3 linked regions of the Homo sapiens genome follow. The protein of the gene in region 2 purifies or fractionates together with the protein of the main gene of each other region. This does not show direct contact. Each region holds a gene or a part of one and is shown on either strand. Other genes may lie near its edges.

What was found.
Region 1: the proteins of CLCN5 (region 2) and TMEM9 purify together in Homo sapiens (co-immunoprecipitation; 3 studies listed by BioGRID and IntAct, with this or other methods). This does not show direct contact.
Region 3: the proteins of CLCN5 (region 2) and TMEM9B purify together in Homo sapiens (co-immunoprecipitation; 4 studies listed by BioGRID and IntAct, with this or other methods). This does not show direct contact.

Annotation. Positions count from the first base shown.
Region 1 is NC_000001.11:201,137,371-201,144,479, reverse strand, and holds part of TMEM9 (proton-transporting V-type ATPase complex assembly regulator TMEM9 isoform a precursor), read left to right. Parts: intron 1-528; coding exon 529-660; intron 661-7,109. UniProt on the Homo sapiens protein: Transmembrane protein that binds to and facilitates the assembly of lysosomal proton-transporting V-type ATPase (v-ATPase), resulting in enhanced lysosomal acidification and trafficking.
Region 2 is NC_000023.11:50,093,550-50,099,793, forward strand, and holds the end of CLCN5 (H(+)/Cl(-) exchange transporter 5), read left to right. Parts: 3' UTR 1-5,681; downstream 5,682-6,244. UniProt on the Homo sapiens protein: Proton-coupled chloride transporter. Functions as antiport system and exchanges chloride ions against protons. Important for normal acidification of the endosome lumen. May play an important role in renal tubular function.
Region 3 is NC_000011.10:8,961,431-8,969,226, reverse strand, and holds the start of TMEM9B (transmembrane protein 9B isoform a precursor), read left to right. Parts: upstream 1-4,784; 5' UTR 4,785-4,913; coding exon 4,914-5,018; intron 5,019-7,043; coding exon 7,044-7,135; intron 7,136-7,796. UniProt on the Homo sapiens protein: Enhances production of pro-inflammatory cytokines induced by TNF, IL1B, and TLR ligands. Has a role in TNF activation of both the NF-kappaB and MAPK pathways.

The sequences.
Region 1 (7,109 bases), on a different chromosome or scaffold from region 2:
TTACCAGCCCTAGCCACTCTGCTCAGGGGCATGCCATGAGTGGGCCAGCGCGCCCCATCCGTCTTGCTCTCCACAGGAGCAATGAGCCCACCAGCCCAGGTTTACTTTTCCTGGCCCCAGCTTTCCAGCCTCTCCACAGCCTGTTCTTCCTTGCTCTTAGTTTCTGATTGCTTTCCACCCTTCATCATGAACTCTTCTACAGCCAGGGAGGCCCTTGTGTTCCCATCTCTACCCCGGGAGCCTCTCGGCATCAGGCTCCAGACTTCTTCCTCTGTCATCTGCCTGCTGTCGTGATGCCTGCTGTGCAGACTCCCTCAAGTTAGGACAGAGTGCTTCCTCTGTGGAGTAGGGCCCTCCCTTTCCTTTCTGGGCATGCTTTCCCTCTGAGCCCACGTTGCCTCCAAGTCCTTTCTTAGTGCACCACTTGAGGAGTCACTGCCAGCCGGACACAGATGGCCCAAGACTAGCAACGGATTTCTAGCCCTGGCCTCAGATAATGGTTCATAGGCACGCCGGTCTCTTCCTCAGGTCATCATTGTCATCTACCTGTCCGTGGTGGGTGCCCTGTTGCTCTACATGGCCTTCCTGATGCTGGTGGACCCTCTGATCCGAAAGCCGGATGCATATACTGAGCAACTGCACAATGAGGAGGAGAATGAGGTAAGAGGGCTTTGAGTGCCCAGGCCCTGGGTCCCTGCATGTGCGTCCCCAGGGCAAAACCCAGAGGAGCGTCACCTAGGTCCAGGTCCCACCTCCCCAAAATGCTTCAAGTTGCTCTTCTGGTCAGTGTCGTACACATCACCCAGACTCAGCAGGGACCTGCTCTTTGCCCTTCCAGATGAAGCAGGACACCGGGCATCAAGCAGTCTCCATGTACAAGCCGGGGGAGCCATGTCATCCTGCTGTACTGTGCTTCCAGGCAGAGGGGGCGCAGCCAGCCAGAGCCAGTCACACATAGATACACATGATATCCCCCGTGTGCTCAGACATTGGTGACAAGCTGCTGGTGGACTGGACGGCAGCAGGTTAATTTGTTTGTCCAGTGATTCCACAAACATCTGTTGAACACTTGCTCAATGCAAACCAGAGCTCCAGGGTCTGGGGAGAAATGTAGGATTTCAAGAGCGGAAGAGGAATGAGACAGTGGTGCCGGGCAGGGGACATTGCCAAGTATGTGTGAGGAATTTTGAGCGTTGCAAGGATAGGGTAGAGATGTTTGAATAGTGGCAAAGAGAGCTGGCCAGTAGATTTAGGTCACATTATTAAAAGTCCCAAATGTCAAGCTAAGGGGGTTTGGCTTTATCTGACAAGGAAAGTGGGGAACCACTGACCCCAGACAGCCTGCAAGGCCTCCAGGAGTTCATGCAATGGTGGGGAGCTGGCAGGGCTTGGACCAGGCCCAGTGCAGTTAACAAGCGCTGTCACCGTCTTCCCATTCATCCTCATACTAAAAAGTTGTGGACACCATGGCGAGGAAACCCGGGGGGACAGGAGGGCTCAGGTGAAGGGCTCTTCGTGGGAGTGAGACGTGGTGTACCTCCATGCTGAGCAGAGTTGTGATGAGCCCTGCACTCCCCAGGTGGTCTAGGGGAATCTTGCCTGAGTGAGGACTGCACAGCCCCGTGTGCCTCGGGCTCCCCCTTTATGCGCTCATGTACCAGCTAGCTGGGTGCATGAGACAGCAGAGCGGGCTGCTTAGAGGCGTGGAGCCAAGGCAGGCGGGGTTGGCTGCTGCTTCCACTCTGAGCTCTGTCCCCAGGGCCTTGCTGCTGGAAGATACTCCTGTTTATTGACTGATGGAGGGATGCCCTGAGTGAACTCATGCGTATGCATAAGGAATATCTAGTCGGGAAGCGCCTCAGCTAGGCCTCAGAGAATTAGTTGAAGAAACTGAGAGTCATTTAGCTTAAAGGAAAAGAAAAACAACTAAAGGAGACGCATGATAGCTGCCTTCAGAAGTTTGTAGAAGACAGCTTGGCTTCATCCAGGGACAGAGAGATTTAACACAATATGAGGAGGAGGCTGGGAGTCTTCCTGTAGACAGCGTGGTCTAACTATGGGGTAGGTGGGCTGGGCTCCCTTGCAAGACCATGAGCCAGTTCCTCACCAAAAAGAGGACCCAGGGGCTCAAGTCTAAGTGTGAAGCTGCCTGGGTGATGTGGGTCTGGGCCAGCATGAACAGCGAAGAGAAGGGCAGATCAGGGAGGGAGCCTGGCTGCTCTCGAGGGCTGTGTTGCCCCACCCTGCGCACATGCCTGGACTGCTCCCAGTTTGCCCCCAGCCTCCTGCTGACATGAGTTTGGCCGAAGGTGGAGCAGAGGGGATGAGCCTCGCCCCATTGGAGCTAGGGCCTGGGAGGTGGTGGCACTGGCAGTTGGGTGGTCTGTGTTCAAGAGGAAACCTCGTGTGCCTACCTGGTTATTAATGTAGAGTAATAGCAGCTCTGATAGGGGAGGAGCATCGCTAATAAACACTCAGCGATTAGGGGTAATGTGGTAATTGCAGTCCTGGCTGGGGTAGTAATTGAGAGATGCAGCCCAATGATTTCCGTGGAATGCATGGCTCTGGGGCATGGCCTTGTTATGTCTCCTGCCATCCTAGCCAGGGAGCCAGAGGGAGGGCAGCTTGGGGAGAGCAGCTTGCCGTCCCTGGGTATGAACCCAGGTCTCTCTTACCCCCAGGAGACCTGGAGTGCTCCTCATTTGAAGCCTGTTTGTATGAGGGGGCCTTGGGAGGAAGAAGGGCTAGATTTGGTAACTGTGGCAGGACTGCCTGGGAGGACAGTAGGCTGTGATAGGCTGCAGCACATAGAAGCTGGCGAGCCATGCTCCCTCCTGTAGGGGAAGTTGCGGCCCTGGGATGGACAGGATGACACGCCCTCACCTCTCACCTGAGGTTCTAAAAGCTCATAAAAAGTTGTGTTTAATCTCTTTGATACCCTGACCTAGGGTGCAGCCAACTCTCGCTGGTTGTGGCCTGGGGCAGGTAGATCTCATTGGGTGCCCTTGGCTGGGTAAGGAAGTGCCCCCAGTCCCGTTCTTTGGCATCATCTCTCTATCCCCTCACCTCCTGTGATTCTGTGTGGTCTCCAGGTCACAGATGTCTGTGGTTCAGCAACTCTGCTTTTCTCAGTGTATTCAGAAAACCTGCAGGTGGCACAGTGTTGAGATTTGCACAGACCTTATGTCTGCCCTCGGGGGTTTAAGCCCCAAGACGGCCAAAAGCAGGTAAAGCAGCAGGAAACGTAAAGGCTGGCAGTAAGATCTGGCTTCGTAAGACGGGTGGTCAGCTGAAAAGTCAGGTGCCTTGGGAGGCCCCTCTTTACTAGACAAGGGGTCGGAAAGTTACCCTTCTCGTTGTGTTAGTCTGGGAAGGAAGGCTTCCTGGCAGAGGGGGATTTTCAGTGCCCACTCAGGGTGGTTGGGAGAGTGACCGCTGAACTGCAGGGAGGATGAACAGGGCATTGGGGCTGGACAGAACCCAAGGAGCTTGTCTTTACAGAGACTGGGGGCCCTAGTCCTGGACGACGAGGGATAATCTACTGCCCCTCTCAGTGCACAGAGGAAAGGGATGTGGGGAAACATGGGGCTGGGGGGCAGGCATTCAGCTGAGCGGCAGCAGCACCTAGGCTGTAGCCATGTCTCTGGGTTTCACCCCAAGAGGAACAAAGTCAGGACATGGCCTCTTGGGTTCCTTGAAAGTTCGCCTAGGCCTGTACAACTCGATGACTTTAGAAGGAAAATTCTGTCTAGGCTCCAGGAGCTTTCAGGCCCTACGCCCCAGAAGTCTGGGACCCAGTTAGGGGTGAGATCTGGAGGTCAGGGCATTTTTTCAGGGTTAGGGACCCCTTGGTTCCTTCTCCCCAATTCCTGTGACCAGGAGCTCTCCTGCCCAGGGGGTAAAGAACTGGAAGAGGAAGAGGAGGCCTCCCCCTCAGCCTCAGCCCCGTTCATGGAGGGAGATGAAAGCTTGTCATGTTCCCTTTGAAAGCGCTGGCAGAGCCTCAGTAGGCCCTGATTGCTGGGCGCTGCCTCCCCTGGGATTCCAGCAGCATTAGGCATAATCCCTGGGCTCAGACGTCCTTTGAAAGGAGGAAGCAAGCATGTTTGCTGGGGCAGAAACGGCAAACAGAGCTGTTTTAGATGTGCAGGTTGGGCCCTCTTTGAAGAGAGACACATGGTTTCTCTGAGGCTGGGGATGTCGCTGCTCACAGCATGGGCCCAAGCTCTGGAGAGGTCTTCAAAGTGCTCACCCTGCTGGGGCAGTGGGTAGAGTTCTGGGCCCCCTTTGGGAGAGAGTATACAGGGAAATCAAGGAAAGGTGATGATGATGATGGGAACTGGAACATGCAGGCACCGGGGAGAAGACTCGGGCCACTGAGGAGCAGTCTCCCCTCCTGTCTGCACATGGGTGGCAGCTGTGTTCTGAGGACCCCAGCCCTGGGAAGCTGACAGTGAAACACGGAACAGACACACTGATGAGGGCAATCCAGTCGGCCTCCTCCCCTGAGGGCAGAATAGAAAGATGTGCGGTTCAACAGACGCTTCTAGAGCCTCCAGTGGGGCAGCACAGCATTGTGGTTAATCACAGTCCTGGGAGGGGCCGAGCCCTGCCATTTACTATCCTTGGTGCTAACCTCCTGGTTTAGTTTTCTAAGTCTGGAATACACATAATCATGTTTACCTCAGCATAACTGTTGCGATCGTGTGTATGGAAGCTTTACAAGTGTTTGCTCGTCCTTAAGAATGCGCTATTTCAATCAGGTGTTAATACTTAAGTAGCATCATGATTGCTGGAGGGAAGCCTGAGGGGCAGCGTGCACAAGGGCCTGAGTGAGGATCACCGCAGGTAGACAGAGGATGCATGGACCAGTGTGGCCAGAGGCTGGGCTGGGGGGTAAGGGGGGAGGTGAGGCTGGGAGTGCCCTTGAATGTCAGGCCCAGCAGGGTTTTATTTGTGAGCAGGTGGGTCCCAGCTGGGGTTTTTGGGCAGGGAAACAGCATGAGTTGGTGTGTCATAGGAAGGTGGCCCTAGCCGCAGCGTGCAGGGGTCAGGGAGAGCCTCGCAGCAGAGGTGCAGTGGGACTCAGCAACAGCAGCAAGGACTTGGGTCAAACATGGAAAACTCAGAGAGGCTGTATAGTCCTCTTGCTGAAGGGCTTTGCACTAGGACCATGCTTTGCTGAGTGGCTGGTAAGTGATGAGACCACCTGGTCATGCTCCTGTGCCTGGGATTGGGGAGGAGGGAGGAGGAGCAGCCAGAGAGAGGAGAGCCGCCTGAGGTGGGGTTCTCACTCTCCCTGTCTCCTTGTCATCAGGCTTTGGCCAAGTCCAGTGCCAGCTCAGAACCAGTGCTTCTGGGCAGACTGAAGAGGGTTTCATCTGGGACGGCCTGAAGGGCTCAGGGCTAGTTTGATCAGCTGGGGCTTATCCACACAGTTACTTGGGTCCTTCCAGTGTGGAGAAGAGGGCCTCGCTTGATGTCCTGAGCATTGGTTCCTTTAGAAGTGCTCTGTTCTTGCTCTAGCTGTGGGGAAATATACCAGCCTGTCTCTTTGGTTGTCCATGCTGGCTCCCTCTTAGGAGAAACCAGCCAAAGAAGGATCCAGCTGGGTCCTAGGATAAGAGATATACGTACATGGGTTCAAATTCCGACTTGGCCACTAAACAGCCATGCAGCCTTGGGCAGCAAGATGATTCATCTTTCAGAGCCTCAGTTTCTGCAGCTACAATAGGGGATGGTTTTACCCATTTGCCAGTGTTGTAAGCCTGGGAATAATCTGTGTAAAGTGCCTAGCAGAGCGCCTGGCACATAGTGGCACTTGTCATAGTCACACTGGTCTGGTCCCCCTGGGGACCTCCTGGGAATCCATCCATGTCCAAGCTCTTTTTCTGATTGGGAGGGGCTCCACCCGCCTCCCCTCCTAACTGCCCTTCTGCTCCCGAGTTAACCGGAGGCCCAGCCTCAGAGGGAGAGGGGAGGAACTGGTGGCATTTCTCCCACTTCCACCCACCATACTTGCTGCAGAGCAAGCAAGGATGAGGCCCCACTCTGGGCTGTCTCTGAAACAGATGTGGAGTCTTTAATACCTTTTAATCAGACTATTAGCGATGGAAACTCAGCCTCTCAGTGGCAGCTTTCCCCCACTTAGGAGCTGTTTGTTAAGACTTTACATGAAGGGAAAACAAATGATACTGTGGTAATGTGGTGAATTTCAGCATGTTCCCTTAATGCTGTGCTCTGGGCTCTCCCTGGCTTCCCCTTCTCAAGACGCTCCCCTGAGATACAGAGCAGTGGAAGGAGGGCAGGGCTAAAGCTGCCCCACCCTTCCAAGCGTAGCACCCCACCCCACACACACACTGGAGCCCTGTCATGAGAAAGATGGTCCCAGAAAGGATGAGATTGGGAATGGAAAGAAGAAGAGAAGGCAATCCAGCCCCCAGAGCCAAGTCCCGGTGGGCCAATAGCTTCCCAGATGGGTCTTTAGTGCCCACCTCATGTAGACGGCCACACTGAGGCAGGACTGGGTGGAGGCTTGGTCTTAGCACTGTGGCCAGCTCAGTCAGCACAGTGAACAGGGAAGGCATGGAACTGGAAGGAGGGGCAGCAGCCATGGCAGTTTTCACAGGCTTTCTCCTGGCAGCCAGCCGCCAGCCTTACTGCCTAGTGGCTTCCAGAGCTAGGCTCTGATATTAGTCATCGCTCCTAGGGAAGAAAGAAACCAAACATTTCTTGAGCCCTAGCTCTGTGACAGCCAGGATAGTAAGTGCTTTATATGTGTGTTATTTAACTTTGCCATACCCATCTACTAATCTTAAACCAGTGTATTTCAAGCAAGCCATTAGGTCATGAAATGAATTCTGTGAGTCATGACCAGGATTTTTAAAAAAATGGAATGGAACAGAGCAAAGAATATCAGAATGCATTACACTAAGTATTGTTTTATGAAACTTCTTTTCACTCTGTGTGTGTGTGTGTGTGTGTGTGTGTGTGTGTGTGTGTGTGTGTTAGATAATTTGGTAACTATAATTCCTAATGACCGTATAGCAGAAAAAAGTCTCAATGACTACATTTACTACATTAAATTGAAGCTTGGAGAAATAAAGTAA
Region 2 (6,244 bases):
CCACCTTTATTGCAGTTAAAAAAAAATCACACTCTGGGGACACTTGGTGGAATTACAGAGCCACCATCATCATTCCAACCACTATTTCATTTTCTGTAGTTTTACCTGTGTGCAATTACTCCCCCTCCATTCTGTTCCACTTCTTACTCCTTAGTACCAAATCCTCTGTTTGGGATTGAGCGCTGCTCCTGGTTAATCATTCCTACTACAAAAAAAAATAACTCCCAGGGCTAGTTAAATTGTAAACCAAGGCTCAGCAGTCTCACAACACATGGACCAGAGGTGACACACAGCCATTTCCTTTGCCATGTGGCCCAGTTGCTGCTGCCATGCCTCCATTTCCACACTGGATGCCTACGGCAGTGAGATTTCACTGCCGGGGTAAGAGTTCAGCCTGGATGATTTTATAGCTCTGTTCCTAGCACTTCTCATCATCCTTCCAGCCCAGAATCAGCGGTCATTCTGCATATTCCCACCAACCCTCTACCCCCAAACACTTCAGTGTACCTCATTTTAAGAGTTGCTGATCCCTGATTCTAGGACGTTTTTACCCATAGTTCTTGTCTTTCCAAAATCTGAAATTCTTTTTTTTGCTCAGAACTGGGTAGCCAAGGGTTATTTTATTTTTATCTTTAAAATAATCAAGGCAGTCGCTAGAGTTTCTCCTTGTGAATAGATCACTCTAGCATTTTAATGAAAAAGAAAAAAATCTTTCTGGGGTATGTTGTATCATAGTAATGGCTCAGTAACCACATATTTTGTCCTTTCCATGTCACTGATTCCTTCATATGAGACTATTTGGCTTGACTACCCTGTATATTGTGTAGAAATCAAAGTTCTTATCTGTACATTTCTGGTCCAATACCTGTCTTATTAGTTGTCCTTCCCCACTAAAGTTTGCAAAACAGAAAATGTTACTATTTCTGGTATTTAATGACAATGAAAGGTTTGGTCATATTTCATAGTGCAGTAGCGATAAGGAGGGTGTCTCAAGTTTGCTTTTGTGTTTCTTCTAGGCTTTGTTCTTGATTTTAGACAGATGAGCCAGTGTTAAGGTGCTACTTCAGAGAATAAATTAGAGAAATCAGATAACACTGTGCCAAGGTATACTTTGTAGATGCTAAGCACCGATTGGCCCTCCAGAGAATGACAATATCCCTTTGATACCTCACTCCTGATCAATCTCATTCATTAACCTCAGCTTCTCAGGAATCCTTGTAGCTTGTATGCTAGAAGTAGCTATGGTATATGGTATCCACTATATGTCCAGTCCTATGGTTTGGCTCAAAGGTTGGCTAATTGCAGCTAGAGCTCTCAACTGCTAGCTCAGCACCTTGACATTTGAAGTTTCTTGTCTTGAGGAGAAGGAAAATGTTCTTTCTGCCATTGCCACTTTAACAGTTGGACATGCTTAAGCAACAAATACAGCCAGTATAGGGAGGACTGTCAGTAGCATCAAATGGCCACATACCTCAATGGCAAAAGACTAGATGGTTTGTGATTTAAAAATTAATGAGTCGAGATGAGACTATTTTGGTATTAAATGAGAAAATTGCCTAACACAAGGGAAGGGTTTACAAAAGAATGCCAATTAGTGTTTCAACAGAGTTAGGATTTTCCAAGTAAGAGTAGCTGGTAGCCATCCAGCCATAAAAGGAACGAGAGTCTATAGATTTGTAAAAGTAAAACTGCTATATTTTGTATCTTCAAATCTTCAATATAAAGAATTTAAAGAACCTGAAACAGTTAATGCATGATTCGTTATATTGGAGGGAAAAAGCAGGGGACTGATAATACAAAATAATGGCAACTTTAAAGATCATTTCTACGTGGATGTTTGGTTAGAAACATATTCCAATGCTCTCCTCTTTCTCTGGCCACAGCATCCTGGCTCAGCCCAGCTGTGGAGTAGAGGTGGTAAGATCCACAGAACAGATATCCTCTGGTAGATAAGCTGACATTGATGATACTTTGAATTTACCAGCTGGTGAAGCAAACGATTAATTTGTGATTGAACTGAAAAGCAGTTGAATTGTTTTGACACCAGAGGCTGAATCTAAACCCTTTACAGGAAGAGCAGAGCATACTATACATTTCTTAGCAGATCTTCAATTCTGTTTGAACATGATGAAGTAACCAGGGTTTAGTGAGATCTAAGGCCGTGAAGTAATTCACAACCAAGATCTTATGAACGCATTCAGATGTGAGGGGGGCAAATATGTTTTCAAAAACTTAGTGTGCAATAGAGTCCATTATAGAAATTAACCACTGCTATATGTTTTAAGTAGTTCAATCACCTGTTGTGGTTCAGTCTTGATTATTGTTTATTTTGTTAGGTGATAAGTAGGAAGATGCACTTGTTATCCCACACTATCTCTTGTTTTGTTTTGTTTTGTTTTTAAATAATGAACAGTGCAATCTTTGAACTTGAGTTTTTAATAATGATAGCAAAGACAATGGTGAGAACTTGAAACAGCCAGCATATTTTATATTGCCAAAGTACTTACTGATGACTGACCACACTGTCTTGTGAGGAACTGGGTCCCCTGCACTGGATCAGAGCCAAATGCAAGCCACCCATCAGTTCAGAGGAAGCAGGAAAACATCTTTTGGGTGGTGCATAGAACATTGAGCTCTTAAAAACCCGGAGAAAAATTAGGAATTTAGAAAGTAAGTGGGAGGTAGAATATTGAGTCCTTTTTTAAAAAAAAGAATTGATGTCTAAATATGTAGTCTGAACTTAAGTGTCCTAAAACCTTGTTTTTTGTTTTTTTGTTTTTTGAGGAGTCGTCTTGCTCTATCACCAGGTGGGAGTGCAGTGGCACAATCTCGGCTCACTGTAACCTCTGCCTCCTGCCTCCCGGGTCCAAGCAATTCCCCTGCCTCAGTCTCCCAAGTAGGTGGGACTACAGGCGCACACCACCATGCCCAGCTAACTTTTGTATTTTTAGTAGAGACGGGGTTTCACCATGTTGGCCAGGATGGTCTCGATCTCTTGACCTCGTGATCCACCCATCTCGGCCTCCCAAAGTGCTGGGATTATAGGTGTGAGCCACCGCACCCAGCCAAACCTTGATTTTTTTAGCCACCTCTGGGATTGCCTGGGTTCCCTTTGGAGAAGAAACTAAAAGTTATGGCCATAGAAAAAGCCCTGGTAAGAAAATATTTGAATGGTGTAAGATGGTGGAAGGAAAGCCATCCCACACCCCTACAACATATGTTCTGGCATTTATAAACTGCTTGATTGTGTGCCTCAAGGGGAGAAAAAGTCAAGCAATGCTTCAAAGGCCAGGCTTTCTAAGCAAATGAGTGGTTCAAAGCAGTGTTTGGCTCAAGGGCAGTCTGGTTTTATGGATAGGGCCGACCCAAGACATCTGCTCATGAAGAAATGTGGCATCTGTTGCCATTTCCTAAACTATAAGGTTTAGATAGATTGTCTTGAATTTTGATAGCAAATTTTTTTAAATTTATATTTCTGCCTCCTCGTACATCCTTATATATGGAAAAAAAAGTAAGAGTTCCTCAGATCAGAGCTCAGTAGCTGTGTCAATTTGAAGTTCAATCAGTGTAGTTGTCCTGGGGTGATCGCTGACTCTGCTCTGTTTCATATTTCAGTTGCTTGCTCCAAGGAGAGAATTTCTGAGAACAATGGGTGTTAGCAACTTTAAGTTACTCCCCAAACGTTTGCTGGCCACATTCTCATTTCTAAACATCTGGATCTGGGTAAAGGTTTGAATAGATGTAGGGAACAAAATTGGTTTTTCCATGGTGTAGTCTAATTTTGCCAAATCACCCAAGAAAGAAAGTATATGACGTGTGGAGTTTGCATTTCTTGGATGGGACCTATCGGGTCACCCAGCCCAGTCTTACAGTCATAAATTCCTACCTCTTAGTTCCTGCCAAAGGGCCTTCAGCCTCTGTGTGCACACTTATTGAATGAATGCTTTGCCTAAAGTTTGGCCTTTTGAAGAAAAACAGCATGTGATAATATAAAAATATGAGAGTTTAAAAAAAAAAAAGATCTCTGCCTCTCTTCTCTCTGCCTCGTCCCACCTTGCTGTCTGTCTCATTGTCTTTCTCTCCCCTCACCATGCGCTGAATTCAGATTTCTCTTTCTTTTATTATAGGCATGTTGTTTTGAATGTGGACTTTGTGGGAGGGAGAGGATTGTTCTGAGAACAGAAACTGGAAGATACGTCTGAGTTGATGGGACCAACAGGGCTTTGCTCCTCTGTGAGGGCCAAAGCCATTGATACTTGTCGGGGGTGATGAGGGCTTTAGCATCTCAAGGCAGACATATGAAGTATTTACTGCTAAACTATATTACTTACTAGTACAAATCTGTTGGAATTCAGGGGCAGTCTAAGATTTGGTGAGTGAAATGCCATCTGGCAAAATCGAGAAGAGAGTGTGGCCTGAGAGGGGAATGTTCAGCCTCACTGTCACATTAAGGGTACCTCAAAATACATGGTCCTTCCAGTGTGTTCCTTTTCCTTCCTCCATTTCACTTTGTCCCCTCTTCTTCCTTTCTCTCCCATTTTCCTGGCTTTTTAGCACTCAGCTTTTTTTTATAAGTATGTATTTACTTTTTATTATATATTTGGTCCTTTGGGACTTTGTGATGATTAAGAATTTATTCCATTCAGGATTTTAAAATGATGTGTTTAATATTTTGTTCTCTTAAACTCTTTTGAAGCTATGCTGCTAACCAGGTATAGGCCAGAAAGGAGGTGGCCCAGTCAGTACCTTGCTCACGTCAGCTAAGGGGGACAGTGATGTCATGTGGGTGACTCTTCTTCATTTGACCAAGGCCAGCCTCCTGTTCTTACCTCTGCCCATTCATTTCTGGCTATGGGAAAACTACCACCTGTTGAGTGAGCCAATGAGGCCAGGAAGATCAGAGGGGCTGGGTTCCGGCCCATGGGCCACTATTTGAATTTCTCTGTAGTAAGCTCTTTGTAGGGCTGGCTCCAACTGCAGTAGCCAAAGAAAACCTGTCTGACTCGACATTTTAATGCCTGAGAGTTGGTGAAAGTTCAGCTGAAGCTAATGTCTAGACATCAGCAGTAACTAGGCATCCAGAAAGTAGCTTCAACCAAAGCTAATAGAGCCCAAGTTTCCGCAGGAAGTTTGGTGCTGAGCTGTCCAGAGCAGTTGTTTATCTGAGTGTTGCTAGCCCTTAGCCATGCTTTCTTAGCTTTATTCTCGCCTGTTCCTAGGCATAGCCTGAACCAGAGCTATGGCTCACTGCTCGCTTTATTCTACTCCCTAGTCATGCGGAACAACATAGTCTAAAAAGGAAGATGTGGACTGGGGAGTTAGGAGACCTGATTTCTATTCCCTATGCTTCTACTAACTAGCCTCGAGATCTTAACCGCTCTGTGCCTCAGTGTTCCCATCTGCAAAATGGGGATAGTGTTAATTGCCCTACCTACCTCACAGGGTTGTTGTGAGGATAAACTGAGACAATGAATTCAAAGCAAGTTGACAAGTAAGTGCTATGCAAATTGTAAGAAATGGAAACAATCATGTTAAAAGCAATGGAATGGACATTGGCAGAAGGGTTAATGGATTGTCCAGCCCTTTCTCTGTGTGGCTTAAACCCAGGTCGCCATTGCTTTATACATTTTCACTTAGCACAGATTTGTAATTATGCATGTAATAAAGCACAGCCTTATCCACCCTGGTGTCTGGTGTGTTTCTAAAGACCCTAAACTTGGTAGCTATTGATTTCTGATCAGAAAACCACAGGGGCAGAGTGGAAGGTTCAGGGGAGGGTAGCACAAAACACAACTGCAAACCCCTACTGGCAGGCCCACTGCTTAAAAAGATTTATTAAATAGTTATTTTCACATTTACAGACTCAGTAATACTCTTTACCATAAGGAGGCAAATAAGAGGCAGCTTGCGTTTTTGGAGATGTTCCAGATACCCGGATACCTCATTCATTGTGGCTACTTAAATGTTCCTGTCTCATACATTGGTGATACTTTCCTGATGATGTGAGAATTGGCTGGGAGCTGTATTTTTCTCTCTCTTTGAGCTCTTAATGATGTAAGGTCGTGGGCTTTGACAGGCCTCTTGCCTACAGCTACTTTGTACAAGGAGGAGGATGGGTAATCAAAACGGTCCTCCCATGAATACTAGGATTCTTAGTACCCTCTTTATGGTGTATTGGGATTAAAATGTCTTCTGTACGAAATCCTCTGAAGTTACCCTGTAGATTAAAGTGGGGTGAGGTATG
Region 3 (7,796 bases), on a different chromosome or scaffold from region 2:
CTTGAATGCTAGGTACTTAAGAAAGTTGCATGGAGAAAGAGGCAATAGTTAACTTCAATCAAAATAAAGGAAATATAATCATATTATGCTAACTGGATCAATTACATACCTTTATAATAGTATAATGAATAGTACTCTACCTATATAGGGTGATATAGATAAACTGAAGGATGGAAGATGGAGAAATACATGTGTGTATTACCAGTCTTCAGAGTATAAACACATATCTTATTTCCTATAGAAAAAGTAAAATAATGGCCCAAACTGAAAAATTAAGAATTAGTAGTATAAGCATGCTATTTAGAAATACGGAGATAAATACCAGAAGAGGTAGCTGGGTGAATAGAGATTATATCTAGGGAGTAGAAACTGAGAGTGTGGAGGGCTGGGACAGGGTCTGCTGTTTTTCATTATAAACCTAGTGATACTATTTGATTTTTAATGTAATGATAAAAATAAAACAATATGATTAATGTGGTATTTCATTTATTTGAAAATCTTAGGAGGGACTGTATTCATTAAGTTTTTTTGTTTTGTTTGTTTGTTTGTTTTGAGACGGAGTTTCGCTATTGTTGCCCAGGCTGGAGTGCAATGGTGCAATCTCAGCTCACTGCAACCTCCGCCTCCTGGGTTCAAGGATTCTTATGCCTCAGCCTCCTGAGTAGCTGGGATTACAGGCGCCTGCCACCACGCCTGGCTAACTTTTTCTATTTTTAGTAGAGATGGGGTTTCACCATGTTGGTCAGGCTGTTCTTGAACTCCTGACCTCAAGTGATCTGACTGCCTCAGCCTCCCAAAGTGCTGGGATTATAGGCATGAGCCACCATGCGCCCAGGCTGGAGTGCAGTGGCATGATCTCGACTCACTACAACCTCCGCCTCCTGAGTTCAAGCGATTCTGGTGCCTCAGCTTCCGGAGTAGCTGGGATTACAGGTGCCTGCCACCACGCCCTGCTAATTTTTGTATTTTTAGTAGAGATGGGGTTTCACCATGTTGGCCAGGCTGTTCTTGAACTCCTGACCTCAAGTGATCTACCTGCCTTGGCCTCCCAAAGTGCTGGGATTACAGGCGTGAGCCACTGCACCTGACCTGTTTTCATTAAATATTCTAAGGTACTGGGAAATCAACAATATTGATTTAGCACCTCTAAAAGGAACTAAAAATTCTCCCCACTTTGGTACTCACCTGCACTGTGGTGTTTTATTTCAGGGAACCCAGTAACATCAGCAGTGGCACCAGCAGCTCTAGAAACATATTCTGTCCCCATAAATTGTTGTTATCATGGTGAACACCAGCAAGTGATGCACTTAGGTGGCTTTACAGGCAGCAGTAGGCTTTACAGTGGGCTGAAAAATCCCACTAAACAGGGCTGAGTAGGAGGGAGCATCCTAGTGGGTGCACACAATAAAGAAGAGGGCTCATAAGACGTTTCCAGAGTATGCTCAGAAATAACTGGAAGGATGTGTGTGTCCCCAGCCATAACCACTGGAGCCACAATACAAGGAAATCACCAATGTTGTGCATAACTCCATTTGTTCTCCTGGACTGGTGTTGCCTAGGCAAGTGCTGGGTAGATCAGAATGGATGGGGTGGAAGAATTAAGGGGCATCCAGAGAGCTATTTGATCACTGGAGGGGAAAGGGCATGGGGGGATGCAGACAGGTGGCAAAACCTGGGTCCAAGATATATTTGTCCCAGATATATAAATTGTCACTTTTCTCCCTCCCCTTCTGACTTGCACACTTACAAAGAAGGTTCCTCTTCCTTTTCTAACCATCCCCCACCAGGGAATTTTTCAGGCCTTACAAAGAAGGGAGAGGACCCAGGCCAGTTGGGAGGGTACACGTGGACCTACATCACTCTTTTTGAGGAAGTGAGTAGGGAAACCTAGTTATAAGGAAGCAAGGAAAATAGAGGGAGAGTGAGTACTAAGGCCAGCGCCGTCTATAAACAGAACAATTCCCGTGTGACCTGAAGGTCTAGGAAGACCCGAGGTGAGAAATCTTCACTCCCCTGCCTACTATGGTGCGCCGGATCCCGCCATTTGCACATCTTTGGGCATCTCAGCATCCCCTCTCATGGTCAGAAAGAAATCAAATGAGGATTCAAGTAGGTGCCTGATACTTTTCTTTTAGACTAACCAGAGGAGCCTCTCCCATTCCCCTTTTCCCTGGTCCCCACAAACATCATATTGTTTTAATCTGTCTCCAGGTATAACAATAATAAGACAAAGTCCTTACCCTCAGAGAGCTCACAATATTTTGGTGGAGGTTTGGGTATAAAGGCAAATGTGAAAACATAATTTTACTATAATGGGGTAAAGTTAAGAAAGAGATCTATGCAAACATAGAAAGGAGTGCACTTAAGTCAGTGAAGGTTTTCTGGCTTAGAAGAACCCTGACCTAAAGGAAAAGTAAGAGTTACCTAGATAAGAGCAGGGCAGAACAAGAGAAACTGATCCCTCCACTTCTATTGAGTCACCTGAAATTATATTCATTTTTTGGCAGACATATACCTCCCCCAAACATTCGGCTCTAGTTGTGCCAGTTCTTCCTTGTCAGCCCTCTTACCTTGGCCTGAGGCTTCATTGTCTCCAGTCAGGCGACTATCTCATAGTCACACTCCACTCACGGCAGCCACATTCTGTATTCCAGAACAGCACTTCCTGACAGCACTATAACATTTTCTAGCAGCCACATTTAAGAGGTCAAAAAACAAGTGAAATATTTTACTAATATATTTTATTTAACCCAACATATCTAAAATATTTAAACCATATTTTTAAATTACTGAAATATTTTACATTTTAAAAATATTGTCTTTGAAATTAAGTGTATATTTTATACAGCACATTTCAATTCAGTCTAGCCACATTTCAAATGCTCAATTGCCACATGTAGCTAGATAGTGGTTATACTATGGAGCTCTAAAATTCCGCCCAGACTGAGTGTGCTTGGTGTTTCTCCATTAAACAGATGAGGCCCATCAGTCTGAGGCACAACTATGTATTTTCTCTAAGTCTCTGTACCCCCAAGGCCTTGAAAACAATTCGGAAGGAAGAGAAGGCCTATGAGGTTTCAGCTACAGCAGGCACTCCCTTTAGATGCCAAGCCTAGAAAACCCTAAACTGATGCCTAACTTGCAGCTGAATCACCTTTCAGCAATCAGATTCAGTGCCTCACCAACACATTTGATCCAGGGAGTCTCCAGTTTGTCCTTTGTCCAGTAGAAGACCCACTACAAAGCCTTGATAATTCATCAAAGTGACAGCACCTTCACTGGGCAGTCTGGTGAGAGGACATCTAGCCCTGCCACCCTGGTTCCTGTTGGGAACAGTATCAGATACGTTGTGTTAGATTCACATGAATCTAAGAATCACATGGGCGAAAAATATTGAGAGCATTCTGTTAAAACATTTCCACAAATTGGGAAAAGACCATCTTTAAAAATCTGTTGGGGCCGGGCGCGGTGGCTCACGCCTATAATCCCAGCAATTTGGGAGGCCGAGGCGGGCGGATCACAAGGTCAGGAGATCGAGACCATCCTGGCTAACACAGTGAGACCCTGTCTGTACTAAAAATACAAAAAAAAAAAAAGAAAAAGAAAAAGAAAAAAAAAATTAGCCGGGCGGCGTGGTGGCGGGCGCCTGTAGTCCCACCTACTAGGGAGGCTGAGGCAGGAGAATGGCGTCAACCCGGGAGGCGGAGGTTGCAGTGAGCCGAGATCGCGCCACTGCACTCCAGCCCGGGGGACAGAACGAGACTCCGTCTCAAAAAAAACAAAAAAATCTGTTTACAGAGGTAAAAACACGGGTATTACATGGAGCATAATTTGAAATCCATTCCCTCATATTCAGCCAAGAACTACAGGCCCAGAGAAGGGAAGTGATTTGCCAAAGGTCATTCAACAAATCCCTAGGGGCTGTGATGATCCGTGTCCTTGCCATTACCTCCCTTGTCTCCACTAACAAAAATATTTCAATGGGAGAATGTGCCGATCTAAGGCACTCCTAAAGTACTTGCTGAGAATGACAGCCCTGGGGAGACAGGTCGGCAGCCCTGAACAGGCACTGCCTTACCCGGGCGTAGTGCCCCAATTCGCCACCTCTTGGAGTCCTAGGCGGAGGATACTACTGGGGCAGTTGTTTCGCCAATTCCACATCTCCCGGAGCCTGGCCTGGCCCAGCCCAGCCCCGTCGCTGTGACCCACTTCCTAGCTGCAGGCTGGACCAAGGGGAGGCACATGGGGAGCTCCACAGGGAGGCCACGCCCACGAGGGCAGCTCACAGAATTAGAAAGCCGACGGGGTGCTGTGGTCAGGAGGCGCGTGGGCGGCAGGTTAGTACTTAAGGTGCAGAGACCACCCCCAACCCTTTGACTGGCGGTGGGCATCCCGGAAAGGCATGGCTCGGCCAATTCCAGCCCCGTTTCCACGCTCAGCACCCGCCCTGCCTGTGCGCGAACGGCTCCGGCCCGCACGGGTCGCCAGAGGCGACTGTGTGACACTCGGAGTTTGCTGGGGTCTCCGTGGGCGGGAGGACTTTCCAGCGCAATGGCGACTCCCTAAGCCCCGCAGCTTCTGCGCCCGGGAAAGATATCCAAGAGATGCAAAGCTCTACTGGGCCCAGGCTGCCACCCCAGAGGCCCCCTTCCGTCCCGGGGCCGGGGCTAGGCCAAGGCGGGCACCAGGACTGCCCAGCCTCCCGGCCCTTCGCACTGGTAACCGGTTCCGGGGCGGATGCTTTTTGCATCTGACCCGGCGCGCCCGGTGACGCCTTCGCGTCCAGACGGAAGTGCGGGCGGAGGATCCCCAGCCGGGTCCCAAGCCTGTGCCTGAGCCTGAGCCTGAGCCTGAGCCCGAGCCGGGAGCCGGTCGCGGGGGCTCCGGGCTGTGGGACCGCTGGGCCCCCAGCGATGGCGACCCTGTGGGGAGGCCTTCTTCGGCTTGGCTCCTTGCTCAGCCTGTCGTGCCTGGCGCTTTCCGTGCTGCTGCTGGCGCAGCTGTCAGACGCCGCCAAGGTGAGTCCCGCCCAGCCTCGCTCCTGACGGAAGCTCCTCCCCTACCACCGGCCTTGCGGAAACTGGGTCTGCCAACCTGCTCCTTGGCCCATTCCTGACAGCCATACGCCTGGCCTCACAGCTCCGGCAGACCCCCGCCGCCACCAGCCCCGCCCCTCCCGACTGCCCGGCGGCACTCTCGCCCTCAGCCCCGACAGCCTGGCAGGCAGCGCCCCACGGTCGTCCCCAGCCCCGACAGTGCCCACAGTCCGGACAGCAGCCCCCCACCGCCTTAACATTTCCCTTCCCAGCCCCGGCTGCACGCATCTTACACTTGACAACCTTTTCACCTCCGAGAGCCTTTAACTTTCCACCCTAAGCTCTTGACAGCCCACCTGCGCCCTCCGCCAGCCTCACAGGCCCCGCATGCCCCAAGCCAGAATGATAGGAAGCCCCCATCTGACAGAGCCTTCCCTGTCAAGGGCCGACTCAGCTCAGCTCACCCCTGAACACTTCCCTTCCTGTGGTGGGAACTTGCCCCTCCTGGCCTACTTCCCTCCCAATAGGGCCTACGGAGCATCTCTCACCTGCTTCATATTCTCACCTAACTCCCTCCACGAGTCCCTTGGTGCCTTTCTTGCTTTCTCTCTTCCTGATAATTTAGTGGGTAAGGGAAGAACCAAACTGCAAGAGAGGTGAGGTTGTGGCCTCCCTGGTTCGATTTCTTGACCTTCTAGTTCCCTCATACTGTTCTCTGGTGCCCCAGCTCTCCAGACCTGCCCTAGCTCCATGCATACCTGTGCTTCCTCTTTGATGAGCTAGCTCATCATTGGGGGAGAACAGAAGGGATTCACATTAGTATGATGGGAAAACAGAATGACATTGCGTTTTTAAAAATAAGAGCTTTAATTTATAATATCTTTAAATGTAGGAGTGGGGAAAGGTTACAGGCAGGCAAATGTTTTTGATTCAGAGATTCTTTTTGAAACCATCTCTACCTCCTACCAGAAACAGGGACAGCAGCACGTCTCCTGACTTTGAAAACATTGCTGGCACCCTCTGCATATCTTGCCTCATAACTTTATGTATTGTGATCATGTATTTATTTTTCAGTCTCCTTTACTAGGGTGTGTCCTGGTTATGGGCAGAAACCATGTCTTATGCTTATCTGAATCCACCTTATTGAGCACAAGATCTAACACAGAGCAAATGCTCACTAAGTGGTTGCTGAATACGTTTGTGAATTGTCAATAGCTCTGCCAGACATATCACTGTATATAGGAGGAGTGGGCAAGGTCCTCTGGGGAATGATAAGCCACTTCCTTCTCAAACAGATTCCCCTTTGCTGAGGAAGCATCTCTTCTTTTCTCTATCCAGATACTTAGTCACCTGTTCCTCCACCTCTTGAAACTTGTTTTGTTGGTAGTTGTTCTGTCTGTCAACCAGGAATTAGAAGCAAAGTTTCCTGGGAAGAGTATACTAAACTGATCTCAGAGTCAGGCTACTTCCTGTGTGTACTTCCTTTCTAGTTGTAGGTGGGTGCCTCTAACATTTCATCCCTTCTACGGGACTCTGGCCCAACCCGTTTTATCAATGTCAGTGCCTTCTACCAGAGGGTGAAAGGATGATAGGTAGAATTGTGACCTTTTTTGTGAATAATTTTTAGTTTCTTTCCCATCCTTTAGTAATGAATATTCTTATTTACAGGCACAACTATCTGCTTACCATGTGTCTTTCTAGTGGCAGATAGATGGTAATAACATTAACATAATTTGATTGTCATGTGACCCATAAATATGGTTAATAAGTCTTAGATCATGTATTAGGTATTATTTCAAAATAACTACATGTAATATATAATGATTCATTGGCATTACCATAAAGGACTGTGGCTTTTAAAAACTGTGTCTGTTAAAGTTTTAAATGAATGATTTTAGAATACTTGGTATTCTAAAGAGGATGCTTGGCAAAATGTATATGGTACAGTTTTTAAAAATATTGATGATAAACTGTCAACGCACTATACTGTTTCCATTTTGGTTACAGAATTTCGAGGATGTCAGATGTAAATGTATCTGCCCTCCCTATAAAGAAAATTCTGGGCATATTTATAATAAGAACATATCTCAGAAAGATTGGTAAGTATCTGGATTACTGAATTACCTGTCACATTTGTTTCTGTGGTTGTCAGTGTTATCCCAGAATGTTCATCAAATGCATAGTTTTCTTTTTAAGTATTTCATTTGAAGCAAAAATGTGAAATTCTACTTCCATTTGAAAAAGTGAGAGTGAGGCCCTACGTGCATGATGCCTGCAGGCCTAAAGGTATACAGCCAAAACACTAAGACCCATGTAGGCAGAGTTTCATGGGAGCATATGACTGGGTTTGTGGCACCTAAACTACCCATAGCTATCTTGCTGTACTCCCTCAAGTTTTGGTGAGGGACCTTTCTCCCTCTTGCTTTTCAGTGGAAGGTTAGCAAGCCTCGTTTGTCTGGGTTATAATTTTTACAACTTGTAGGTTTTGATGATGTATTGCCAAGTATGGGAAGCTATGTTTAAAAGTGTCAGAAGGCTCAAGAAGAAGTGGAAATGAGCTATGTAGTCAGAGTTTCCCATTTGGTGTAAATGAAGAAGTTACAGTTGTGCCAAGATATTGACCTGTTCAGTCCTTGGGCAGTCAGGCAGGCCTGTGATGACTGGGGGATCCTGACTGACTAGCCACCAGCAGCCTTCTCTGCTTATCCCAGCAGACCTGACAAATAGCTTTTTCTACGTGTGCCATGAAGCAGTTGGGAT